7 linked regions of the Homo sapiens genome follow. The protein of the gene in region 6 purifies or fractionates together with the protein of the main gene of each other region. This does not show direct contact. Each region holds a gene or a part of one and is shown on either strand. Other genes may lie near its edges. The genes, in order: DNAJC7, FLNC, CAST, CKAP5, WARS1, PLS3 and TALDO1.

Evidence for each region.
Region 1: the proteins of PLS3 (region 6) and DNAJC7 fractionate together in Homo sapiens (co-fractionation; one large-scale study listed by BioGRID). This does not show direct contact.
Region 2: the proteins of PLS3 (region 6) and FLNC fractionate together in Homo sapiens (co-fractionation; one large-scale study listed by BioGRID). This does not show direct contact.
Region 3: the proteins of PLS3 (region 6) and CAST fractionate together in Homo sapiens (co-fractionation; one large-scale study listed by BioGRID). This does not show direct contact.
Region 4: the proteins of PLS3 (region 6) and CKAP5 fractionate together in Homo sapiens (co-fractionation; one large-scale study listed by BioGRID). This does not show direct contact.
Region 5: the proteins of PLS3 (region 6) and WARS1 fractionate together in Homo sapiens (co-fractionation; one large-scale study listed by BioGRID). This does not show direct contact.
Region 7: the proteins of PLS3 (region 6) and TALDO1 fractionate together in Homo sapiens (co-fractionation; one large-scale study listed by BioGRID). This does not show direct contact.

What each region holds. Positions count from the first base shown.
Region 1 is NC_000017.11:41,982,940-41,986,439, reverse strand, and holds part of DNAJC7 (dnaJ homolog subfamily C member 7), read left to right. Parts: intron 1-532; exon of another isoform or gene 533-2,803; coding exon 2,804-2,877; intron 2,878-3,500. UniProt on the Homo sapiens protein: Acts as a co-chaperone regulating the molecular chaperones HSP70 and HSP90 in folding of steroid receptors, such as the glucocorticoid receptor and the progesterone receptor.
Region 2 is NC_000007.14:128,840,406-128,843,905, forward strand, and holds part of FLNC (filamin-C), read left to right. Parts: intron 1-142; coding exon 143-269; intron 270-428; coding exon 429-565; intron 566-764; coding exon 765-958; intron 959-1,048; coding exon 1,049-1,162; intron 1,163-1,825; coding exon 1,826-1,969; intron 1,970-2,169; coding exon 2,170-2,293; intron 2,294-2,388; coding exon 2,389-2,549; intron 2,550-2,823; coding exon 2,824-2,914; intron 2,915-3,002; coding exon 3,003-3,172; intron 3,173-3,390; coding exon 3,391-3,500.
Region 3 is NC_000005.10:96,665,376-96,668,875, forward strand, and holds part of CAST (calpastatin), read left to right. Parts: intron 1-3,500.
Region 4 is NC_000011.10:46,759,281-46,762,780, reverse strand, and holds part of CKAP5 (cytoskeleton-associated protein 5), read left to right. Parts: intron 1-18; coding exon 19-154; intron 155-281; exon of another isoform or gene 282-392; intron 393-587; coding exon 588-781; intron 782-1,996; coding exon 1,997-2,169; intron 2,170-3,338; coding exon 3,339-3,500. UniProt on the Homo sapiens protein: Binds to the plus end of microtubules and regulates microtubule dynamics and microtubule organization. Acts as a processive microtubule polymerase. Promotes cytoplasmic microtubule nucleation and elongation. Plays a major role in organizing spindle poles.
Region 5 is NC_000014.9:100,365,348-100,368,847, reverse strand, and holds part of WARS1 (tryptophan--tRNA ligase, cytoplasmic), read left to right. Parts: intron 1-1,804; exon of another isoform or gene 1,805-2,260; intron 2,261-3,500. UniProt on the Homo sapiens protein: Catalyzes the attachment of tryptophan to tRNA(Trp) in a two-step reaction: tryptophan is first activated by ATP to form Trp-AMP and then transferred to the acceptor end of the tRNA(Trp).
Region 6 is NC_000023.11:115,634,174-115,637,673, forward strand, and holds part of PLS3 (plastin-3), read left to right. Parts: intron 1-707; coding exon 708-873; intron 874-2,662; coding exon 2,663-2,805; intron 2,806-3,500. UniProt on the Homo sapiens protein: Actin-bundling protein.
Region 7 is NC_000011.10:753,964-757,463, forward strand, and holds part of TALDO1 (transaldolase), read left to right. Parts: intron 1-1,915; coding exon 1,916-2,039; intron 2,040-3,500. UniProt on the Homo sapiens protein: Catalyzes the rate-limiting step of the non-oxidative phase in the pentose phosphate pathway. Catalyzes the reversible conversion of sedheptulose-7-phosphate and D-glyceraldehyde 3-phosphate into erythrose-4-phosphate and beta-D-fructose 6-phosphate.

The sequences.
Region 1 (3,500 bases), on a different chromosome or scaffold from region 6:
ATGCCAGGGGATGGGAAGAGAAGAGAAAAATCGCTTTGTTTTATTTTTTGGGATGGAGTCTCGCTATGTCGCTCGGGATGGAGTCTCGCTATGTCGCTCAGGCTGGAGTGCAGTAGCACCGTACTGGCTCACTGCAACCTCCACCTCCTGAGTTCAAGCGAATTTCCTGCTTCAGCCTCCGAAGTAGCTGAGATTACCGGCGCATGTCACCACACCCAGCAAATTTTTGTATTTTTATTGGAGATGGGGTTTCATCATGTTGGCCAGGCTGTTCTCAAACTCCTGATGACAAGTGATCTGCCTGTCTTGGCCTCCCAAAGTTCTGGAATTACCAGCAGGTGTGAGCCACCGCGCCCGGCCTTTTTTTTTTTTTTTTTTTTTTTTTTTTTTTTAAGCAAGCCCCCAACACCATAGAAAATTCTTGATTTGCTCGGAGGATAATTGGATGAAGGATTATTTTCTTCTTTGTTTATGTGCAAGAAATGAAAATAAGGAATTGCTTTGATCAGACAACTTCTTATCTTTGTGGTAGAAACAGAACTGCCCTTCTTGGAGTGGCTCTGCCTCTGAGATCACTACAGGGGAGACAGCATGCCCTGTTCAGCTGGCTGAATATTTGGCAACAATCTCCTGAAGCAGCTGGAATTGACAAGAAGTACTGGAGATTAGCTCGGGCCAAACCCTTACATCTGGCCTGACTACTGCTGCAGTCTGCCTCAACTTACCCCTAAAGCTGGGGAGATGCCACCCACCCACATCTTTGCTACACATGCCATCATGAGCTAGAGTTCACCCTTTCTCCTTAAAGCCCTATTTACTTTTCTACTTCAACTTTAAAACAAAATTAAAATGTGAGGATATCCCTGAATTTTAAAAAGCATGAAGTAAAAATGCAAATTAGTATAGTTTGTTTAATACATTACATATAGACCTAAAGAAAGTTCATCAGGGTTAATCATTTGTCACATCATTCTATACCCAGGGCTATCAGCTATCAATTTTCCTTTTTTTTTTTTTTTTAATTCAGGATCCAGCTCTGTCACCCAGGCTGGAGTGCAGTATCAAAGTATCATTTCTCTTACTTCAAATTATTACATTTTATTCTGTACATTGATTCTGAACTCCTAATATAATATTTATGTCCTGTATTTGCAGGCCATTGGTTTTTTTAAAGTCATAAATCAAAATGATGCCAGAAAATCAAAGATGCCCAAGATGTTGGGCTTCTCTTTTGCCAGCCACATTGGTAGCACTCTCCTGCCCTGGCCTCCAAGCTGGTGGGGATCTGTGATGTTTGTGAAAATGGGCTTATGCCAGGCGCAGTGGCTCACGCCTATAATCCCAGCACTTTGGGAGGCCGAGGCGGGCAGATCGGTTCAGGTCAGGAGATCGAGACCAGCCTGGCCAACATGGTGAAACCCCATCTCTACTAAAAATACAAAAAATTAGCCAGGTGTGGTGGCACATGCCTGTAATCCCAGCTACTCAGGAGGCTGAGGCAGGAGAATCACTTGAAACCTGGGAGGCGGAGGTTGCAGTGAGCAGAGATCGTGCCATTACACTCCAGCCTGGGCTACAGAGTGAGACTCTGTGTCAAAAAAAAAAAAGAAAGAAAATGGGCTTGTGTGGTAGCAGGTAAGAAATTGAATCTCTGTTGTACAGCAGCTAGCTGTACTGCATGATCACTTCCCATTCCCCAGCTGACAGTGGCTGTCTCTGGAACTCCTACCACAGTCTTCAATTGGTAGGCCAGCCCTGGTGCCAGTGATTTTATCTGGGCATGGAAAATGCCACTTGCTTCTGTGGAAGAGACACTTAAAAGATCTGGCAGTCGGCCGGGTGCGGTGGCTCACGCCTATAATCCCAACACTCTGGGAGGTCAAGGCAGGCGGATCACGAGGTCAGGAGATGGAGACCATCCTGGCTAACACGGTGAAACCCTGTCTCTACTAAAAAAAAAAATAAAAAATTAGCTGGGCGAGGTGGCGGGCGCCTGTAGTCCCAGCTACTCTGGAGGCTGAGGCAGGAGAATGGCGTGAACCCAGGAGGCGGAGCTTGCAGTGATCCGAGATCACACCACTGCACTGCAGTCTGGGCAACAGAGCGAGACTCCATCTCAAAAAAAAAAAAAAAAAAAAAAGATCTCGCAATCATCCTGTCAAGCTTGATTCCTCCGATCTTGGGCCAAGGGCCCCTCCTTTCTTTTGTGCTACTGAAATAGAAGCAAACCTGTGTTTAGAGTTCCCTTTTCTGTCTCATTTACCTGCATCTCTCATTGATTGGTCTTAGTGGAGGGATTTGCCAGCAGCTGCCACGTTGAACTTGATCCTTTTAGTGGCTCACTAATCCCACCTCTATTCTGGATTGTAGCTAGTCCTGCATGTTTATGGCACTATAGGTTTCAAAGCTCTTTCATACCCATTTATTCACTTGATAATTTTTCTCTTGTGTGTTTCAACCCAAAGTAATCAAGTAGATCCCTTCACATTGTCTTTTCTAAGGCAGTCCAGTACCTCTTAGGTGGCTGTGTGTCAGAAGGAACTTTTTCCTCTTGATTACTTTCTGCTCAAAGCTGAACATCACTTTGCTGGTTGGATGCAAGTGCCATGCGACCTCTCTTTTTATTTCCTTGAGGACTTGTTAGCTAATTTTCTCTCACTGCTAGATTAAGGGCTCCTGTTTCTGAAGCATCTTACCAGAAGTGTGTGTCTCTTGCTTGAGCCATGCCTCTTGCCCTAGAGTGATCCTGAGAACCACTGCTATTTATGTCTTAGTGCTGTATTGCCTTGTATTTCCTTCTCAGTTACATGGACACAGAACAGTATGAAGAAGCAGTACGAGACTATGAAAAAGTATACCAGACAGAGAAAACAAAAGGTAAGTTTAAAAGCATTTGTTTTTTAGGGAACTGTGTGGACTTCGTAGGCCATAAATCTGTACACAAGGTAGTTTGATTCAGGGATCAGGGATCTACCTAGAACTTATTTGATCACCAGCCAGAAAGAAGTGAACAAAGGCTGGGCGTGGTGGCTCACGCCTGTAATCCCCAGCACTTTGGGAGGCTGAGGCAGGCAGATCACCTGAGATCAGGAGTTGGAGACCAGACTGGCCAACATGGTGAAACCCCATCTCTACTGAAAATACAAAAAATTGTGGGTATGGTGGTATACGCCTGTAATCCCAGCCACTCAGGAGGCTGGGGCACGAGAATTCCTTGAACCCAGGAGGCGGAGGTTGCAGTGAGCTAAGATTGCGCGACTATACTCCAGCCTGGGTGACGGAGCGAGACTTCATCTCAAAAACAAAAACAAAAAAAAGAAAAAAAAAGTGAACAGATATCTTGGGTTGGGGCATGAGGCACCTATTTTCTGGTTCCAGATCCTCCCTGTCGTTTTCATTTCATTTTTTGTGTGGTGAGGCTAAAGTGAGGAACCTAAGTCTGGGTAGATTTTCTTTTTTCTTTTTCTTTTTTTTTTTTTTAAGATGGAGTCCTGCTCTGT
Region 2 (3,500 bases), on a different chromosome or scaffold from region 6:
CTGCCCTGAGTTGCAGCACTGCTCACTACAGCACTGCCCTCGGGCTGGGTCGGGGTCCCAATGGCTCCTTGAGGGGATTGAGGAGCTGGGACTTCAAGGATATTGATCTGCCTTCTTCCCCACCCTGCCCCCATCTCCTCAGAGGGCACAGAGGAGCCAGTGAAGGTGCGGGAGGCTGGGGATGGTGTGTTCGAGTGCGAGTACTACCCGGTGGTGCCTGGGAAGTATGTGGTGACCATCACGTGGGGCGGCTACGCCATCCCTCGCAGGTGAGTACCTTGCGCCCCCCATGCTGTCCTGTCTAGGCCATCACAGGGAGGGACGAGGGGCACTGGGCTGCGAGGGAGTTTGAGGGGAGATGGAGTTTGGGCTGCGAGGGACTTTGGGGGGCACTTCCTGGCATGGACACCAGCTCCCTCTCTGCCCAGCCCCTTTGAGGTACAGGTGAGCCCAGAGGCAGGAGTGCAAAAGGTCCGGGCCTGGGGTCCTGGTTTGGAGACTGGCCAGGTGGGCAAGTCAGCCGATTTTGTGGTGGAAGCCATTGGCACCGAGGTGGGGACACTGGGTAAGTGGCTGGGGGGCAGGAGGAGGGAGTGCTGCGGGGGAGGGCAGCAGGGGACACTGTGGGTAATGGGTGCAGTGCGCATGCTGGGGAGCGCTGGGGTGAGCAGGGAGATAGGACATGAGGGCAGCTAGAGGGGAGCTGGGGGACGGAAGGGTCTTGCCTGATGCTGGATCCCCGACCCTCCCCCACCTTGCCCCAGGCTTCTCCATCGAGGGGCCCTCACAAGCCAAGATCGAATGTGACGACAAGGGGGATGGCTCCTGCGATGTGCGGTACTGGCCCACGGAGCCTGGGGAGTACGCTGTGCACGTCATCTGTGACGATGAGGACATCCGAGACTCACCCTTCATTGCCCACATCCTGCCCGCCCCACCTGACTGCTTCCCAGATAAGGTGTGGTCCCAGCTCACACACACCTGCCCCGGGGGTGGGGCAAGCTGGTTCTCCTCCCCTCCCCAACTCAGCCTTCTTCCCTCCGCACAGGTGAAGGCCTTTGGGCCTGGCCTGGAGCCTACCGGCTGCATCGTGGACAAGCCCGCTGAGTTCACCATTGATGCTCGTGCAGCTGGCAAGGGAGACCTGAAGCTCTATGCCCAGGTAGGTCATTGTCCAGTCTCTGCTGCCCTTACTACCCATGGCAGGGACCCTGGAAGGCAGGGCCAGGCCAGAGGCAGAGGCCTCCCAGCAGGAAATGACAGCATCACAGAAGATCAGGCAGGACTGATACTCATGGGCCCATCAGTACCATGGAAAATTTTAAATTTTGTGTTTTCTTAACGATGATAACCTAAAAACGTATTTTACCAAAGAGTCATTTTTGTGCTAATTTGTAATTGAAAGATTGTTTCATTGAATAAGACACTGGTTTCCCAAGTCAGTTTCTCAGACTGGTGTCCATTGACCCCTAGAGGTTAATGAACATATTCTTGAGGATCTAAGAGGGTGATTCTTCTTTGAAAGGCTCATGATTCAGTTTTAGGAACATAAATTTAGCCCACACTCTTCCTGTCCAACACATTTCAGAGTTGAGGAAACCTAGGCTGGGAGAGCAAGCCATACAGATGGCCTTGAGTCAGGCTCCCAGGGTGGGCTCTGGCCGCCAGAGCACGTGGCCCTGGGCTCTGGTGGCCTCAGTGGCTGGTGTGGGGGCGGGAGTGCCAGTGTTGGGGGTGGGAAAGGAGGCGCTGGGTTCACCTGCGGCCAGCAGAGGGCGCTCTGCAGAGGCCACAGCTATGAACTTTGCTTGGGTGATGCCCACAGGACGCCGACGGCTGTCCCATCGACATCAAGGTGATCCCCAACGGCGACGGCACCTTCCGCTGCTCCTACGTGCCCACCAAGCCCATTAAGCACACCATCATCATCTCCTGGGGAGGCGTAAACGTGCCCAAGAGCCCCTTCCGGGTGCGTCCTCCCGGCCTGCCCCGTGCCCACCACCAGGGGTCCCTGAGGGAGGGCGGAACCCTCGCTGGAGTCCCTGTTGTCCCTGGGCTCAGGCTGGGACTGAGGCTTGGGCTGGTGCCACTGAGGCTGGGCCGGGTGCGCTGGGCAGGAGGATGAGCCTTGAGGGAGGGCACCACGCTGAGCTGCGACCCCTCCCGCAGGTGAACGTGGGCGAGGGCAGCCACCCCGAGCGGGTAAAGGTGTACGGCCCCGGAGTGGAGAAGACAGGCCTCAAGGCCAATGAGCCCACCTACTTCACGGTGGACTGCAGCGAGGCGGGGCAAGGTGCGCCCAGCCGGAAGGGGTGGGTCTGGGAGGGGGCGGGGGTGAGTCGAGTCGGGGGCTGAGCCCAACTCACAGCAGTGCCCGCTTCTCTGCAGGCGACGTGAGCATCGGCATCAAGTGCGCCCCAGGCGTGGTGGGCCCTGCAGAGGCTGACATTGACTTCGACATCATCAAGAATGACAACGACACCTTCACCGTCAAGTACACGCCACCAGGGGCGGGCCGCTACACCATCATGGTGCTGTTTGCCAACCAGGTACCTAAGCTCCTGGGTACTCACAGCGACATGCACCTGCCAGCTCCAGAAGGCAGCTGGAGATGCTGTCACTGGGAACAGGGAGGGATGATTCCGCAGACATGGTGGAGCCCTACCTGTGTGAGGCAGGGTGCCTCAGAGGAAGCAAAGGGGGCCCTTTTGGAGGCTGCCCCTGTCCATGCTGGGTCCCCTGGGTGTGTCCTGAGCCAGCATCTAGCTGAGAGCAGGGGTGTGTTCCCCTCGAGAGCCCTGACTGAGCCTCCTCCACATCCAGGAGATCCCCGCCAGCCCCTTCCACATCAAGGTGGACCCATCCCACGATGCCAGCAAAGTCAAGGCCGAGGGCCCTGGGCTGAATCGCACAGGTGAGTGTCTGGGCAGGGGCTGGGACTGGCTCGAGGTTGGGGTTAGGTGGCTGCCAGGCCCTCACCACATCTCTGGGTGGGTCCTCAGGTGTGGAAGTCGGGAAGCCCACCCACTTCACGGTGCTGACCAAGGGAGCCGGCAAGGCCAAGCTGGATGTGCAGTTTGCAGGGACAGCCAAGGGCGAGGTTGTGCGGGACTTTGAGATCATAGACAACCATGACTACTCCTACACTGTCAAGTACACCGCTGTCCAGCAGGTGCGCTCTGCCCCTCCCATGCTACCGCCCGGCCGGCCCGCCAGAGCCCTGGGTCTCCCTCCTCCAGTCCCATGGGACCAGTTCTGGATCCTCCACGCCTTTCCTGCCTCCTGCCCTCACTCTCATGGTGGATCTGAGCTTCAGAGCCCATATTCACCACCAGGATGTTGTAGGACCTTGCCTTATATCCAGTTCTGACCTACCATTGTACCCAACAGGGCAACATGGCAGTGACAGTGACTTATGGCGGGGACCCTGTCCCCAAGAGCCCCTTTGTGGTGAATGTGGCACCCCCGCTGGACCTCAGCAAAATCAAAGTTCAGGGCCT
Region 3 (3,500 bases), on a different chromosome or scaffold from region 6:
TCTTTTTTATACTAATTCTTCAAAATCCAATGTATATTTACATTAACAGCACATCTCAATTCACACTTGCCACATTTCAAGAGTGTTCAGTAGCCACAAGCAGCTAGGGGCTATAGTAATGGACAGTATAGCGCTAGACCATGGACTCCTAAACTTTCTTTTTTTCCTTTGGTGATAGGTGGGTGGTCACAGACAATTTTGAGAATCAAATGGGATTTATGGACTGCTTTCCCACAACAAAATACATACAAACATACACAAAATGCAGTTTCCAATATAGCTTCAGGGAGTTCAGAGATTTCCAAAAGACCACCCATAAATCCCCCAAAGGTCCATGGAGCCAGTTTATAACACACACACACACACATACACACACACACACACATATACATACACACATACAAACATATACAATCCAATATACATATATGTGCATATTTATATATAATACACACATGCATGTATAATACATATGTAGACATCTAGATTTATGTGTGTATGTATCTACAGATATAAATACAGATGTCTGTCTGTATGTACACATGCATGTATAATACATATATAGACAGATTTATATGCATATATATCTACAGATATAAACACAGATATCGGTATATACACAGACATCTCAGAATACTTCAGGTAAATCCTATAATTAAAATATCTTTGTGGAATCCTTTAAGTACTGAAAAGGTTATAAATGATCTAACTTTCAAAATTTAGGCAGAATAAAATGAAATAATTAAAAGACATGTCTCAGATGTGTTCGTTTAACAGCATGCCACCTATAAAGCTAGTCAGTGAAACGTTGCAATGTATATTTCCACATTGAATGCCATCAATCCTATTGACTTTATCTTCTGAAAAATGTGGTTGTAGTAAACACACACACACACACACACACCACACAACTCTGCAGAGCTAAATTTGAAGAACATCTATGAGCTATGTAATGATCAAGCATGAACGAAGGTTAATTTGGCCCACACCAGTCATCACATTCCTGAATCATCAGTTGATTCTATTAGACTATGTTAATTAAAGGTGTTTCTTAGCCTAATTAGATCCATAGACCTAGTGACAGCATGATCAAGGAGCCCAGTCATTTGGGAGGCCCCATCATTGCTGCCAGCCTGGGAAGAATGTTGCAAGCCTTCCATGGCAGGACAGATCACTTGCTCACAGTGAATTTTAGAACTAAGGAAGGCAAATAACAGGGCCTGCAAAAAGGGCATAGACTTTAGGGTAATGGAAACATAGAGGTCAAATACAGCCTTTCTCTTTCAGCTGACAGTCTTTGAATTAGTTCGCGCCCCATTGTGTATAAGCCTTTTAAACCAAGAGTAGCATCTGATAATATCTTTCTTTAAATCAGTTTTGGCACTTCCCAGAAGGTTAATTATATTCTACAGGTGCCTTTTAAAGAATGCTATAGCCTTCTGGGGGTGGGAACAGTGGGGGGTCATGTGAGATTCCATGTGGATAGGTGGGTAATTAGTTCTGACTAGATTGTCTCAGCAGATACAAAACTACTCTAAGTAGTACATCATTTTTCCCCCTTGAGGTATTTTTAAGATGAAAATCATATTAACAGATACTAAAGTTCTGTTCTTTGAGTTGTCTCATTTTCCTTTCATGAAAACATACCCAGAAAGCTTTACAGCCACCATAAAGGCGGGGGGCAGGGGGAAGTATATCAGATGTCTTCCAGTTAAGAAAAATGCAAGAACAGTTCCATCCAATAAACACTGTTCATGTAAGTTATCTCCTCAGATGGAAAAGTCAGTTAACTCAGGAAGAAAAAGGTCTAAAGTTATAGTTTCCTAAAAATGTATGAAATTTGTTTTGGTTGTAGGAAACTCATAGAACATAAGAATAAATTTGGTAAAGCTCAAAGATGTTCACAGTTGTTTATTGTCCACCTGCTGTGTGTCAGTTTTGTGCAGAGTGCGGTGGACACAAAAAAATCGTGCAGTGGTCTGTGCCTGGCCTCCTCTTGCATTTCTCATAGATAAAACTACAAGTTCATTCTCATGACAACTGCTGTGGCAACAAAGCAACTATTTAAATTCTCATGATACCCCCTTTGACTTAAGAAAAACTCATCCAGCCTTACTTCAGGTGAATCCCAGGAGCTAATCTATGACAGGCAATAGATGCCACCTCTGAAAATTGGACACAAAGGGCCTGTACCTTTACAGTGTCATCTTGTCATGTCCACTGAAATCTTAAAATGTTAGAAAAAACGAACACTTGGGGTTCAGTGAAAACAGAGGGATTTCAGAATTACAGCTATGCAGTTAATCCTTAATATATATTAAGCATTAGTACACAGAATAAGAGAAGAGTATAATGAGGCTGGGTGCGGTTGGCTCACGCCTGTAATCCCAGCACTTTGGGAGGCTGAGGCGGATGGATCACAAGGTCAGGAGTTCAAGACCAGCCTGGCCAAGATGGTGAAACCCCATCTCTACTAAAAATACAAAAAAATTAGCTGGGCGTGGTGGCAGGCGCCTGTAATTCCAGCTACTCAGGAGGCTGAGGCAGGAGAATGGCGTGAACCCGCGAGGCGGAGCTTGCAGTAAGCCGAGATTGCACCACTGCACTCCAGCCCGGGCGACAGAGCAAGACTCCGTCTCAATAAATAAATGAATAAATAAATAAATAAGTATAATGACCTCTTCATATACCAATCATTGGTGTCAATAATTGTCAACATTGTCCTAATCTTGTTTTATCTGTTAACCGTCACAGCTACCAGCACAGACACGCGTGCACACACACACACACACACACACCCTTTCAACATGTTTTAAAGCATGGGAATTGCAAATATAAGTCATCCTTGTAACCAAATTGCTGTAGTTTGTTGGGAAAATGAATTCTTTAACCCCCATGTAGTTTATCTCCTTGAGTGTTATACGAAGATGTGAGAATAATATATAATACACAGTCATGAGATAGACAAAGTACTAAACAAAAACTTAATCAGATGAACCTGATAAGGTTCCTTTGTACTTTAGGGAAAGTAAAATACTAAATTCTTCTGTTCTAATGTTTACAGCCTTAGAAAATGAAACCCTCAAACCTTAACTCACTGGCTTCTAATTCACCACAGTCAGATTGCCAGGGAAAAAGAAGGGAGTGAAATAATTTTAATTGTGTTCTTAAAATGAACAAGGCAATGAACCAGGTGCCTCACTAATGTCAACTCTTTTCATAAATTTGCCAGCCCCTGGGATAGATACCATTAGCCCTATTTTACAAAAAGAAACTGAAAAATTAAATTATCTGCCCAAGGTCACGGTCATATAGCCTTACAAATCTAGGCTGTTTCTGCCCTATCAGAGTTTATTGCAGTCAACTAACAGACAGAAATGACTCTGAGTATTTAAAACAAAGGGAGTGTAACATAGGGAATTGGTTACCCAGGTAAAAAAAAAAAAGGCTGGGAAGCCGTCAGGGGAGGGTGAGGCAACCCAGAGATTAGAAATTGCAGG
Region 4 (3,500 bases), on a different chromosome or scaffold from region 6:
ATTTTCCTTATCGACTAGGTTGGAGAACCAAAGGATGTCATTCGTAAAGATGTTCGTGCCATCCTGAACCGGATGTGCCTTGTCTACCCAGCTAGCAAGATGTTTCCCTTTATCATGGAAGGAACCAAATCCAAAAACTCTAAGCAGAGAGCAGGTGAAGCAAACAGTTTAAACTGAGATGTGAATCTCTGCAGCAGTAGCCTATAGAAGAAATAGTTTATAGATGAACAAATAAATTTCTCCAGTGCCTATGTAGTTGATTCCAACCTCCTGATTTAGACTGTGAGAGTGATGAGTTGCACACTGGTGGAGCCATGGTATCAGGTGATACAGGCACCACTCAGTATCACCCTGGTGACAAAATCAAGTGCACAGGGGCCATCTGACTCACAGGCATCTCTTCCTTTCAGGAGCACTTGCTGAAATACCATTTTTTCACTGATAAAAGGCAGTAAACAAAAAATCCTAGGCAGAGCCAGAGTAAGGTTTTAGTCCTTCATATATGCCAAGGGAAATTTCTCTAGTAAGGATAAGTCTCTGTCCCAAATATGTGTTGTCTCATTAATCTAGCCTTTCTCCCCCATCAGAGTGCCTGGAAGAGCTGGGATGTCTGGTTGAGTCCTATGGCATGAATGTTTGCCAACCAACCCCAGGAAAAGCCTTAAAGGAAATAGCTGTTCACATAGGAGACCGTGACAATGCTGTACGCAATGCTGCACTCAACACCATTGTAACGGTGTACAATGTACATGGGGATCAGGTGTTCAAACTGATTGGAAATGTGAGTGACTTCTCTGAACACTGTCAGCATGTCGTGAAAAGAATTGCAAGATCTCCTAGGTGTTAGGTTTCCTGTCCTCTCAACTGTAGCTAAGTTTTTACTACTTTTTAGTCAACTCAACCTATCAATGTGTCCTAGAATCCAGATAGACCCTTGAGGTGTCTCTGATTAGGCTGTTTTAATGGAAATCAAGTTTTCTTTTCTGAGCATTCTATTCATAGCAAATTTGCTTTAGAAATGAGTGCTATTTTTGAATCAAGAAATCTGAGCTAGTCCCGGGTTTAAATTCTGCCTGGCAGTCTGCTCTGTAATTTTTACTGCATCGAGTTTTTGGTTAAAAAGTGCTTATTTGTGTATAGTGTGGATGCTAGTATCTGTCAGATCACATCTTGCGCTACAGCCGTGAGCCAGTTTTTCACTCACATTAGGTTCTGCCTCTGACCTCTTATTTCGTTTGAGTGAGTCTGGACCTCCGTCTTCAGTTACCTCATAGTGTCACCATGTATTTACACAGGGCTTAAATATGTTTACTTATATTTTCTAATTAAATTCTCACTACTACCCAGTGAAGAATATAAAGCAGTTGGGAATTTTACAGATGACCAAAAATGAAGTTTCTTGCCCATAGTCACACAGCTAGATAGTGGTGACAAAACAAAAAATGAGGAAGCTTCATTTAATTTTTGACCTTTTTATTTGTAGTTACTAATTGGCTTTCTTTTTTTTATCGTTTCTTTTTTTTTTTTTTTTTGAGACAGGGTCTTGCTCTGTCACCTAGGTTGGAGTGCAGTGGTGTGATCATGGTTCACCGCAGCCTCGACCTCCCAGGCTCAAGTGATCCTCTGACTTCAGCCTCCTGAGTAGCAAGGACTACAGGCGCGTGCCACCACACCCAGCTTATTTTTATACTTTATGTATAGATGGGGTTTCACCATGTTGCCCAAGCTGGTGTCAAACTCCTGGGCTCAAGTGATCCTCCTGCTTTGGCCTCCCAAAGTGCTGGGATTACATGCATGAGCCACTGTGCCCAGCCCCTCTCCTTCTTTCATATCTCCTCTTCCTATAGCAGCTAGGCAGGTATTAATAGTAGTTGATTTTGAAATGTGGTGCTTTGAAAGTAAACATGTCCTAACATAGAAGGTTCTATTTGTTTTGATATGAAAATAGATATTATTGTGTTATCCAGTTAGGTTTCTAAATTTGGCCTCTTTACAGCTTTCTGAAAAGGATATGAGCATGCTCGAGGAGAGGATTAAGCGGTCAGCAAAGAGACCCTCTGCTGCACCAATAAAACAGGTGGAAGAGAAACCTCAGCGTGCACAGAACATAAGCTCCAATGCCAACATGTTACGCAAGGGACCAGCTGAGGACATGTCTTCCAAACTCAAGTATGTAGATAGAGATACTTGTCTGAGAGCATCTCCATGGCCTTTGCCTTGTGTGCTCACAGCCTGTCCTGTAACATAATCTTGAGTTCTTGTAGCCATTATCATGCATGACAGAGTGTCTGGGTAAATGTATTGTAACCAAATGTTTGATTCTTCAGTCTTCATTGTCTTTGTCTTTGTCTCAAAACCACTTCTAAATGGTCTTGTGCCTTCTTTCACTGCTTTTCCGTGGACAGAATTATGTATCGCACTTATAGGATGTAAGTACTGCCTGCTAATTTCTCATTAGCAGGGCTCTTATATCTTTCTAACTTCTGACTTGGATTCATCCCCTCTGGAGGGTGACTAGCTTAGAGTTTATAATCAGGGTAGAGGGTGTCCATAAGTACCCCATGAATCAAGTCTTCCACAAAAGTTCAATGTCATGTGGCTAAAATACTGATTCACTTTCTTCTTTGTGTTATACTTGGTTGTGCTTAGTTTCCTATTCTTGAGATAAGGCTAATTAAAATACATGCAACCCAAAATTGGCTTAGGGACTCAAAATACTGCCTCCTAAGCAAGACAGCTCTATTTTGGGTTGTGTCATGAGTATAATTTTAACGAACTTGAATTTGGAAACTTTGAATCCCTATTTCTTGGATGTAAAGCTGGCCCTGACCTGTCAAGAGTGAATATTCTAAAAAGGGGTGACTGGTGGTCTCACAAAATATAAAATGTGCTGAACACGGCATGGAATGGTACTTATGATTAGCAAAATTAAAGCACTGGTTAATTTGGTGGAAAAGAACCAGCCAGTCTAAATTTTTCTTATATATTTGCTCATAAGTAGTGAACTTTGAGTCAATACAAATATATTTTATTGTTTTCTGCCCCTTCAGGAATAGAAATACAAGGTTTGTTGGCTTTAGTGAACTAGAACAAATACTTATAACTTGGCAGGTAATGTAAGTACAAATTAAAGTTATCTGCCCTCTTAGGATATTCATGAACCAATGTTGTTACCTATTAAAGGCACTTGCTTAGACTCAGGGACTTAAATCATTCAGGGGGGCTGAAACCAGAAGTTGAACATCTGTCCTGAAGCTTTGGGGCAACTGACAGTGCTACTCTTGCCCTTTGGTTAAGAAGTCTCTTTTAGTTCAGGAGCCTCCTTTTGCTTCCCTTAGCCAAGCCCGAAGCATGAGTGGGCATCCTGAGGCAGCCCAGATGGTCCGCCGAGAATTCCAGCTGGATCTAGATGAGATTGAGAATGACAATGGTACAGTCCGATGTGAAATGCCAGAACTTGTTCAGCACAAACTGGATGACATTTTTGAGCCAGTCCTTAT
Region 5 (3,500 bases), on a different chromosome or scaffold from region 6:
CTGGGATTACAGGCATGCACCACCACACCCAGCTAATTTTGTATTTTTAGTAGAGATGGGGGTTTCACCACGTTGGTCAGGCTGGTCTCAAACCCCTGACCTCAGGTGATCTGTCCACCTTGGCCTCCCAAAGTGCTGGGATTACCAGCATGAGCCACCACGCCAGCCTTGGTTATAGTTTTAAATGTATTTTTCCTTTATCAACATTGGGATGCCTGTGGTCTAAAGAGTCAGGGGTTCTCAAAGCCTTTGTGAAATACAGTGGCCCTCCAGCCCACCTCTCCCTATTTCCTGCTCAATTCTTTTAGCCGATCTTTTGGTTATGTACTCCCCATATCTGTAAATATTCTGCTTATCATATTGTTCCTTGTTGATTTTCAAGTTGGGGTCTTTCAGGTGGAAATGAAGCATTCGTACCTTCACAACCACTTCCCGTCCAGGCAGTCTCCCCATCTGTATTGCAGTTGTAGTTAGGTCAGTATCTGTACACTGACATTATTATGACCATGGAAATAGACGTGGACAGCTGAACCATCACGGATAGAATGAGTACTCTAACTTTCTCGCCCAGCTTTTGTTTTCTCTGGAGTTAATATTTGTCTTAATATCTGTTTGCTTGACTTTTTTATGTCAATGATACTAATGATAATGTATCTCCAAGCCCTTTCCCTGTCCAGTGAATCTCCTTTCAACACACATCAACTAGTCTATCAAGTTCATCTTCTTGAGGCGATCTCTCCCAAAACCTTCTGCCTGCTTCCCTCTGAAGTGGGGGCTCTTGCTTCCTACACTGCCCATCTTGGCGTCTTTCTTCACTGTCGACCCAAGGGGTTCTTTCACCCCTGTCGATTGGGTGCCCCGTTTCCTGCTCCTGCATCTTTATTCCTCTTTGCTTTACTCTTTGGGCAGAGCAAATCTTCCAATTGTTTCTGAAAAAAATATTGCAAAGGAAATATTTCTAGGGGGATCTTGCCCATCTGAAAGCGTATTTATTTTACCTAAAACATGATTGATAGCCAGGCTGGGTGTAGGGTTCTAGCATGGAAGTGATTTCCCCTGGAAATGCTGAAGCCACTGCTCTATTGGCACCTAGCTTCTGGGCTTGCTGCAGAGAAGTCAGTTGCCATTCCTTTGTTTTTTCTTTTTGGAAGTTAGCAGGATCTTCTTTGTTCCCGTGTTCTGAAATTTCATGGGATGCAGGTTCAGTATGCCTTTCTTTTTTTTTTTTTTTTTTTTTTTGCCACCCCACCCCCGCCCCCCGAGATGGAATCTCACTCTTTCACCCAGGCTGGAGTGTGGTGGCACAATCTCGACTCACCGCAACCTCCGCCTCCTGGGTTCAAGCAGTTCTCCTGTCTTAGCCTCCCAAGTAGCTGGGATTACAGGCATCCGCCACCATACCAGGCTAATTTTTGTATTTTTAGTAGAGACGGGGTTTCACTATATTAGCCAGGCTGATCTCAAACTCCTGACCTCATGATCTGCCCACCTCGGCCTCCGAAAGTGCTGGGATTACAGGCGTGAGCCACCACACTCAGCCTGCCTTTTAGACTAGAAACTCATGGCCGTTAATTCTCAGAAATCATGATTTCTTTGATCTCTTCTGTTTTCTCTCTTCACAGACTTTTTTTTTTAATTCAGAGACTGTTTCTCTGATTTTCTAACCCTCCTATTGTTTTCCATTTCTGCTATCATTTTTAACTTCCAGGAGCATGTATGCTCCCTGAAGTTTCCTCACAGCACTCTGCCCTGACTCATAGGTACAGTACCACCCTTTTCTCTCTGAGATTTTTTTTTTTAATCTTATTTTACTGTATTAAATCTTACTAATATTCTGTAAGGGACAAACCAGACGAGTAGGCTACAGTGAAGAAATCTTATTTTGGAGAGTTAAGAAACCACTATGATACTTCCAGGTATTATCTTCAGTGATGCTTCTTATCTTTATTCAGGGACTCCAGGTAATATTCAGCTCCTACAGCTACCACAAATGCAGCAAATCCCCATTTGAATCCTTTAAACAATACATCAAAAAAGGAAACACTCTTTGCAAAGCCACCCATGTATCTTCAAGCTTCATTGTGGCCCCACGGATCCCTTAGCCCTTTTTCAGCCAGCTTCTTCTGGATAGTTTCTAATGGTGTCCCTTCTGTCTTCCGTTGTCTGTAATCTAGAAGTTCCATTTTACGATGTCCATGCTCATGTCCATGTCCATGGGCCATGTCTGACAGCAATCTGACCTCTCAGGACACTCAACTCTCTCTCTCTGAGATCTTAATGGTAGTTTTCCATATGTCCTCTACATCCTTTATAACCTCAGTTTCTTCCATCTTAATTTGTTTTCTACCTGCCTTTCATATTAGAGGCAATTCTCAACTGTTTGGTGTTTCTTGGCTATTTGCTGGTGTTTTGGGGGGTGCACTGAAAGCTGCTGGATGCACTCTTCATTGGGGAAGAGCTTATCAACATAGGTTCCACTTCCTGGAGAGTGACCAGGCTGCTCCCCTTTTGTTGGGGAATCTTTCGTGTCAAGGTCTTTAGATCTTTTCTTTAAAGTTAAGTGAGATTCCCCAGAGAAAGCTCCCCCAGTCCACTGTTCAGAGGGGGTGAGTCCCGCTGCCAGAGTTCTACGGCTGAGTGGGAGAGAAGGGCTGGGCTGTGGGATCCTTCCCCGAAGCTCCCTATTCTCTGTGTGCTGCCAGTGCCCCAACTGTGCAGACTGCCCCCAGTCTAGGCACCTGTAACTCTGTCCTCTCTTGACATGAAACCTTGGAATGGAGGGGAAACTGTGACACTCCCTTGGCCGAGGGGAGAGGGATTCTCAATAACTGCTTCTTGAAGAGACTTCAACCAGCGCTCCTGTTTTCATAACCCGCTTTCCTGCCCCCACTCCTGTAAGTGCGCAAGGTCACTAAGGCCCGAACCTTTGGGTGATTCCGTAACAGTGTACACTCGGTCACCTTCCAGTATTTCCATGATGTCTTAGCATTTGTTTTTCTCTCATGCTGTTAGGCACTGATCATTCATCAGCTTTCTGGCTTCTGAAACCTTGTTGCTGTCATCCTCTTCTTGTTTCCTTTGTCCTTGTGGGATTATGCTTTAAAAAAAAAAAAAAAAAAGAAGATCTCTGCTTTTGTTGTAGTAGATTTCAGAAATATCATCATCAATACGCATCTTTAACTAGAACATAAGCATTTCATTTCCTTCTGGGGTGACTCCACTCCGGCTTCTCCATGACTTCCATCACTTTTTTTTTTTTTTTTTTTTTGAGGCTGAGTCTCACTCTGTCGCCCAGGCTGGAGTGCACTGGCACAGTCTTGGCTCACTACAACCTCTGCCTCCTGAGTTCGAGCGATTCTCCTGCCCTGGCCTCGTAAGTAGCTGGGACTGCAGGCGCCCGCCACCACACCCGGCTAATTTTTGTATTTTTAGTAGAGAGGGGGTCTTGCCATGTTGGCCAGGCTAATCTTGAACTCCTGATCTCAGGTGATCCGCCCGCC
Region 6 (3,500 bases):
CAATCCTTGTAAAAACTGTTGAGTGTGGGATTGTTATCCAGATTATACAGACAGAACTGGGACTCAGAAAGGTTTCTGAGCTTGCCTGAGATTAATGTTGGAACTGAGGTTCAAATCCCATTCTAATTTCAAAGCCCCATGTTCTTTTCATTTCATAATGTGTTCAAGCACTACAGAGATAAGCAGAAGTATATAAGCTCTTAATTAACTGGCGTGCTTAAGAAATGGAGCATTTTTTTTTCTATCAAGTGAATATTAGATTATTAGCAAAATTCCCTCAGAGAAGAGCACCTCTTGGGATGTGGACATTGATAACTTCTAAAACTCTTTTGGGCATATGCAGTACTGTTGGTCTCTCACCCATTTAGGCATTTTTGGAATTATAACACTTTACTCACATGGATATATTTACTGTGGTACTCAGCCTTTTCATTTAGTGCCAGCATACTTCAAAAGGTACCAAATAAAAATACAAAGTTAACTTCTCATGAGATTCTGCAAAAGGCAATAGCAATAAGGCTGAAATTTGTCTTAGCTAGGCTTTCTAACACAAAACTCTGGAATTTGTTTTTTGTGACACATATATGGATGAAATTAATACAGGGTATTAATTTCCTCATTGAATGTTATTTTCAGTGAAGGGAGAAAGTAGACTGCTAAAAAATGGAAAGGTCAAGAAGCAAGTGTGTAATTTGGCTGTCTTGCAGGAAAACTTGAACTTGGCACTGAACTCTGCTTCTGCCATTGGGTGTCATGTTGTGAACATTGGTGCAGAAGATTTGAGGGCTGGGAAACCTCATCTGGTTTTGGGACTGCTTTGGCAGATCATTAAGATCGGTTTGTTCGCTGACATTGAATTAAGCAGGAATGAAGGTAATGGAACACAGTCATTCTGGCAGTTGTTTATTGGTTATTTTTTTCTAGTCATGCAGACTTTCGTGCTCTCACTTAATGGAGGTGATTAAATGGTGGTAACTAGAATGAACATAAGGTAATGCTATAGAGTTATTCAGGAAAATAGCCTAATTACATGACTCTCTTCTTTACTAGTAATTCACATTTGTCTGGCACTTTACAATTCATTTTGCAATAATGACACAAAAGCACAGAGAGATTAAGGAGCTTTCCTGAAGTCCTCAAACTTGATTATCTATTTTTTTCTGTTCTGCCTACACAACTTCTACCCCGTTGCCACCCTCAGCTCCACCATTTTGCACCATCTTCTTTTTTGGAGACAGGGTCTCACTCTGTCACCCAGGCTGGAGCGCAGTGGCACAATCAGCCTGGCTAACATGGTGAAACCCCGTTTCTACTAAAAATACAAAAAATTAGCCAGGCGAGGTGGCACGTGCCTGTAGTCCCAGCTTCTCCGGAGGCTGAGGCAGGAGAATTGCTTGAACCCGGAAGGCGGAGGTTGCAGTGAGCTGAGATTGTGCCATTGCACTCCAGCCTGGGCGAAAGAGTGAGACTCTGTCTCAAAAAAAAAAAAAAAAAAAGAAAGAAAGAAAAAAAAAGAGAGAAAATGTAAGATTGCAACCGGGTGTGTTGGACCATGCCTGTAATCCCAGCACTTTGGGAGGCCGAGACAGGTGGATCACTTGAGGCCAGGAGTTGGAGACCACCCTGGCTAACATGGCGGAACCCCGTCTCTACAAACAATAGAAAAGTTACCTGGGCGTGGTGGCATGTGCCTGTAGTCCCAGCTAGTCAGGAGGCTGAGGCAGGAGAATCGCTTGAACCTGGGAGGCAGAGGTTGCAGCGAGCCGAGATCATGGAGGCAGAGGTTGCAGTGAGCCGAGATCACGCCACTGCACTCCAGCCTGGTCAATAGTGCGAGACTCTCTCAAAAGAAAGAAAAGAAAAAGAAAATATAAGGATGAATTATATTTCTGTTAAAATAGGATTGAGCCTTCAAGAGTTAATTGATTAATTTTACTTAAATACAAATACCACCGTGTTTCTAGACTACTTTAATCAAAAGGTTAAGTAAAAGATTCCCAAATTGTAAACATCTTTCCCCCAAATCCCTGACTTTTTTTTTTTTTTTTTTTGAGACGGAGTCTCGCTCTGTTGCCCAGGCTGGAGTGCAGTGGTGCGATCTTAGCTCACTGCAAGCTCCACCTCCCGGGTTCACGCCATTCTCCTGCCTCAGCCTCCCAAGTAGCTGGGACTACAGGCGCCCGCCACCACGCCCGGCTAATTTTTTGAATTTTTAGTAGAGATGGGGTTTCAGCGTGTTAGCCAGGATGGTCTTGATCTCCTGACCTCGTGATCCGCCCGCCTCGGCCTCCCAAAGTGCTGGGATTACAGGCGTGAGCCACTGCACCCAGACCCAAATCCTTGACTTTAGAAGTGTTAAATAAGAACAACTTATACAAACATATGACATAATGTGAAGCTTGCATTAAGCTTAAAGGCCATAACCTCATTTGGTATTTGAAATGTGAAGAATAACAGAGAAAAGAATAAATTGTAGTATTATGTTATTATATCTGTTATATATTTATCTTTTTTAGTAGATTATGAGTATCTTGAAACTAGGAACTATGTCATAGTAGTTTTTGCACCTCTATTACTTAACAGTGTCAAAAGACTGAATGAACTTGGCATGACCATTATTGTGTCATATAATAACTGTGGGATTTTTTTTTTTTTCTTCTAGCCTTGGCTGCTTTACTCCGAGATGGTGAGACTTTGGAGGAACTTATGAAATTGTCTCCAGAAGAGCTTCTGCTTAGATGGGCAAACTTTCATTTGGAAAACTCGGGCTGGCAAAAAATTAACAACTTTAGTGCTGACATCAAGGTAACTGTTGAAAGAATCACAACATTTTGGGGGGATATAATAGCTGGAAGATTTCATCCCAGCTTAACAGAGAGAAAATCCTAACACTGTATCACCAAGCCTTGTTGTCTCTTGGCCCTGAAGGTAGATTTTAGAAGAGTAATAGAGCCAGATAAGGTACATTAGCACCTATGTTTTATTTTGTGGGAAAAGGTAAAAATATTATGCTAATTTATCATATTATAATGCTAATTTGTTATATCCTGCCTATTGGTAAACATGGAGTATTAAAGAATAGGACATGACTATTCTATTCTTAACTGCCTTTCCCAAGCCTCAGTGTACCTGTTAGTAAACACACCTAGAAGAGATAGGAAGGGCCTCATGATTTCCTCTTCACCTTTTTTATTTGGCTTCTCTCCTGTCATTTTATCCTACCTTTAGTTGTGAGTTCCTCGAGGATAGCAATGAGCTCTTATTTATGTCTGTGTATCCTACCTCAGCCCCTGCTCCAGGGCCCTCCTACTAAAGCCAACTTAAAACATAGTATGTGGCATATACAAGTCCCTCATATTTCTTGCATTGAATTGAATTTTTTTTTCACTCACTGTTTATCATGAGCAGTGGGGGAAAACTAACAATGGAGGAAGACATTTATTACATGTTGCCTTTGGCTTCTCATGCAGAGGGCCAACATTACCATAGCAAACATTGTG
Region 7 (3,500 bases), on a different chromosome or scaffold from region 6:
TTGGTTACTCTGAAGAAAAAAACTTTTTTATTTTTTTTTGCAACAGAGTCTTGCTCCATTGCCCAGGCTGTAGTGCAGTGGCACAATCTCGGCTCACTGCAACCTCCACCTCCCGGGTCCAAGTGATTTTCCTGCCACAGCCTCCCGAGTAGCTGGGATTATAGGCATGCACCACCACGCCTGGCTAATTTTTATATTTTTAGTAGGGACAGGGTTTCGCCGTGTTAGCCAGGCTGGTCTCGAACTCCTGACCTCAAGTGATCCACCCCCGTTGGCCTCCCAAAGTGCTGGGATTACAGGTGTGAGCCACTGTGCCCAGCCACTGAGTAGCATTTTATGACTGGGTTGATTAAAGCAGAGAATGTCAGCTTTATAAAAGGGACCACCAGTACAATTTGAACAAAAACTTGGGACATTGTCAAAGTTGTCCACTCCGACTAAAAGGATTCTTAGGTCAGGTTTTGTCAAGTTACCTGCAGAAGCTACTGAATGCGATATTTATTTATTTGTTTGCTTATTTATTTATGAAACAGAGTCTCACTCTGTCACCCAGGCTGGAGTGCAGTGGTGCAATCTCAGCTCATTGCAACCTCCACCTCCTGGGTTCAAGCGATTCTCTTGCCTCAGCCTCCTGAGTAGCTGGGATTACGGGCATGTGTCACCACACCCAGCTCATTTTTGTATTTTTAGTAGAGACTGGGTTTCACCATTTTGGCCAGGCTGGTTTCAAACTCCTGACCTCAGGCGATCCACCAGCCTCAGCCTCCCAAAATGCTGGGATTACAGGCATGAGCCACTGCACCCGGCCTGAATTTATTTTTTTAAGAGATAGGGTCTTGCTCTCTGGCCCAGGTGGGAGTGTAGTGGCATGATCATGGCTCACTGCAGTCTCAACCTCCTGGGCTCAAGCGATCCTCCTGCCTCAGCCTCTTGAGTAGCTGACGCTACAGGCATGCACTACCACACCTGGCTAATTTAGTCTTTCTATGAAACCTAAAAAGAATGATTGGTGAGTGATAGCAGTGGATAAAATTAGTCTTAAAGTTGCAGCAGTGCGGTTCAGCAACTATTAGATAAACTGGTTTCAGGTTAGAGGCCGCTTCAGCAACTAGGCTTGCAGGTAATAATTTTTGGAGCAATGCTGTGTGTCCTGAGTGCTTTTCCCCTTGGCCTTTTTTTTTTTTTTTTTTTTTTTTTTTGAGATGGAGTCTCACTCTGTCACCCATGCTGGAGTGCAGTGGCGCGATCTCGGCTCACTGCAAGCTCCGCCTACTGGATTCAAGCCATTCTCCTGCCTCAGCCTCCCGAGTAGCTGGGACTACAGGTGCCGACCACCACACCCAGCTAGTTTTTTGTATTTTTAGTAGAGACGGGGTTTCACCGTGTTAGCCAGGATGGTCTTGATCTCCTGACCTCGTGATCCACCCGCTTCAGCCTCCCAAAGTGCTGGGATTACAGGCGTGGGCCGCCGCGCCCAGCTCCCCTTGGCTTCTTGACTCTGTTGCAGCTGGGTATGGTGATAATGACCCAGTCCATAAGATCAGCGTTCACATGTGGCTCATGACTAGACCGCGCGCCTCCTTGTGGTGGTACGGCAGTGGGATGCACATTTTCCTTTGACCAGCGTTCTCCCAGCTGTCGCACCGCTCACTCCCATGCTGTTACAGGTCACCTCTTGCAGGGGCATATTTGATCGCTGGGCACTTAGTGTTTGTTGTTCCATCATTATGCAAACAGCCGCCTCTTGATGAACCTTCAGTGACCCAGAAGAAGGTGTGAGAAGTGTGGCTGGACCCCGCTTTCGGAAATGCTCTGGACTCCCCTAACGTCCTGGGGAATTACAGGGTTCCTTCACATGTTTCCAGTTGGAAGCAAGTACTCCACTTACTTTGGCTTTTGAAAACTATTTCCCTAGCCATCGACGAGTACAAGCCCCAGGATGCTACCACCAACCCGTCCCTGATCCTGGCCGCAGCACAGATGCCCGCTTACCAGGAGCTGGTGGAGGAGGCGATTGCCTATGGCCGGAAGCTGGGCGGGTGAGTGCCTGGACTCGGGAGGGTCCCAGCTAGGCCCTCGTGCTAGTCTAGTTGGCCTTGCTTCCCTCCCTAACTGAATTTTAGTTCTCAAACACCATGAACTCAAGGGGGGAAAAAAACCCTATCTTTTTGCCTATTTTTGTTTATTGAAGTGTAATCTGCATGAAGTAACCTGCACCTGTGGTAAATGAGCAGTTCAGAGAGTTTTGCCAATGTGTGTACCCTGTAAATACCACCCCAGTCAAGATGCAGAGCACTTGCAGACCCCCACAGGCCCCTCCTCCCCTCCTGTAGTCAGTCTCCCCAGCTCTGGTAACACTTACCTTCTGGCTGTCATTTTATTTTTTACTTTTCAGACGGAGTCTCGCTGTGTCACCCAGGCTGGAGTATAGTGGAGCAATCTTGGCTCACTACAACTTCCGCCTCCCTGGTGCAAGCAATTCTCCTGCCTCAGCTTCCCAATTAGCTGGGCTTACAGGTGTGTGCCACCACTCCTGGCTCATTTTTGTATTTTTTTTTTTTTTTTTTTTGAGACAGAGTTTTGCTTTTGTTGTCCAGGCTGGAGTGCACTGGCACAATCTCGGCTCACCGCAACCTCTGCCTCCCAGATTCAAGCGATTCTCCTGCCTCAGCCTGCCGAGCAGCTGGGATTACAGGCATGCGCCATCACACCTGGCTATAATTTTTGTATTTTTGGTGGAGACAGGGTTTCACCATGTTGGCCAGGCCGGTCTCGAACTTCTTACCTCAAGTGATCCACCTGCCTTGGCCTCCCACAGTGCTCGGATTACAGACGTGAGCCACCGTGCCTGGCTTTTTAATTTTTTAATAGCTTTTATAACTCCCAGAATGTTCTCTGGTACCTGTTTGCAGTAGCTCCCCACTCCCTTACCCAACCAAGCAACTGTAGAGCCCTCTTCATGCCTGTGGCTTTGCATATTTTAGATGTCATTTTAGATTCTCTTCAGGGTAATAATTCAAAGCTTGAAGATGGTGCCGAGCAGGCAACGTGGGCACCACACAGGAGCAGGTCCCTCTCTGGTACTGGCTTTGCTTAGGTCCAGGTGGCTGGTGAGTGGCTCCCCTGACCATGTTGTGACAGCCACTCTGGACACTGAGTCTGACCCTCTCCTCTCTCTTCTTAGCTCCCTTTTCCTCATCTCGTGGTGTTGCACCCCTGTGGCATCAGTGAGGCCTTGGTGCTCCTGTTATTGGGTGACATTGGTGCCTTTGCTTGGCTGGGTGATCAACAGATGAGCCCTGCACCCATGTCCAGATGGCCCCAAATTTTTTTTTTTTTTTTTTTTTGAGATAGAGTTTGGCTCTGTCACCTAGGCTGGAGTGCAGTGTCACAATCTCAGCTCACTGCAGCCTCTACATCCTAGGCTCAAGCCAGCCTCCCACCTCAGCCTCCCAAGTAGCTGGGACTACAGGTGCACGCCACCACACCTGGCTAATATT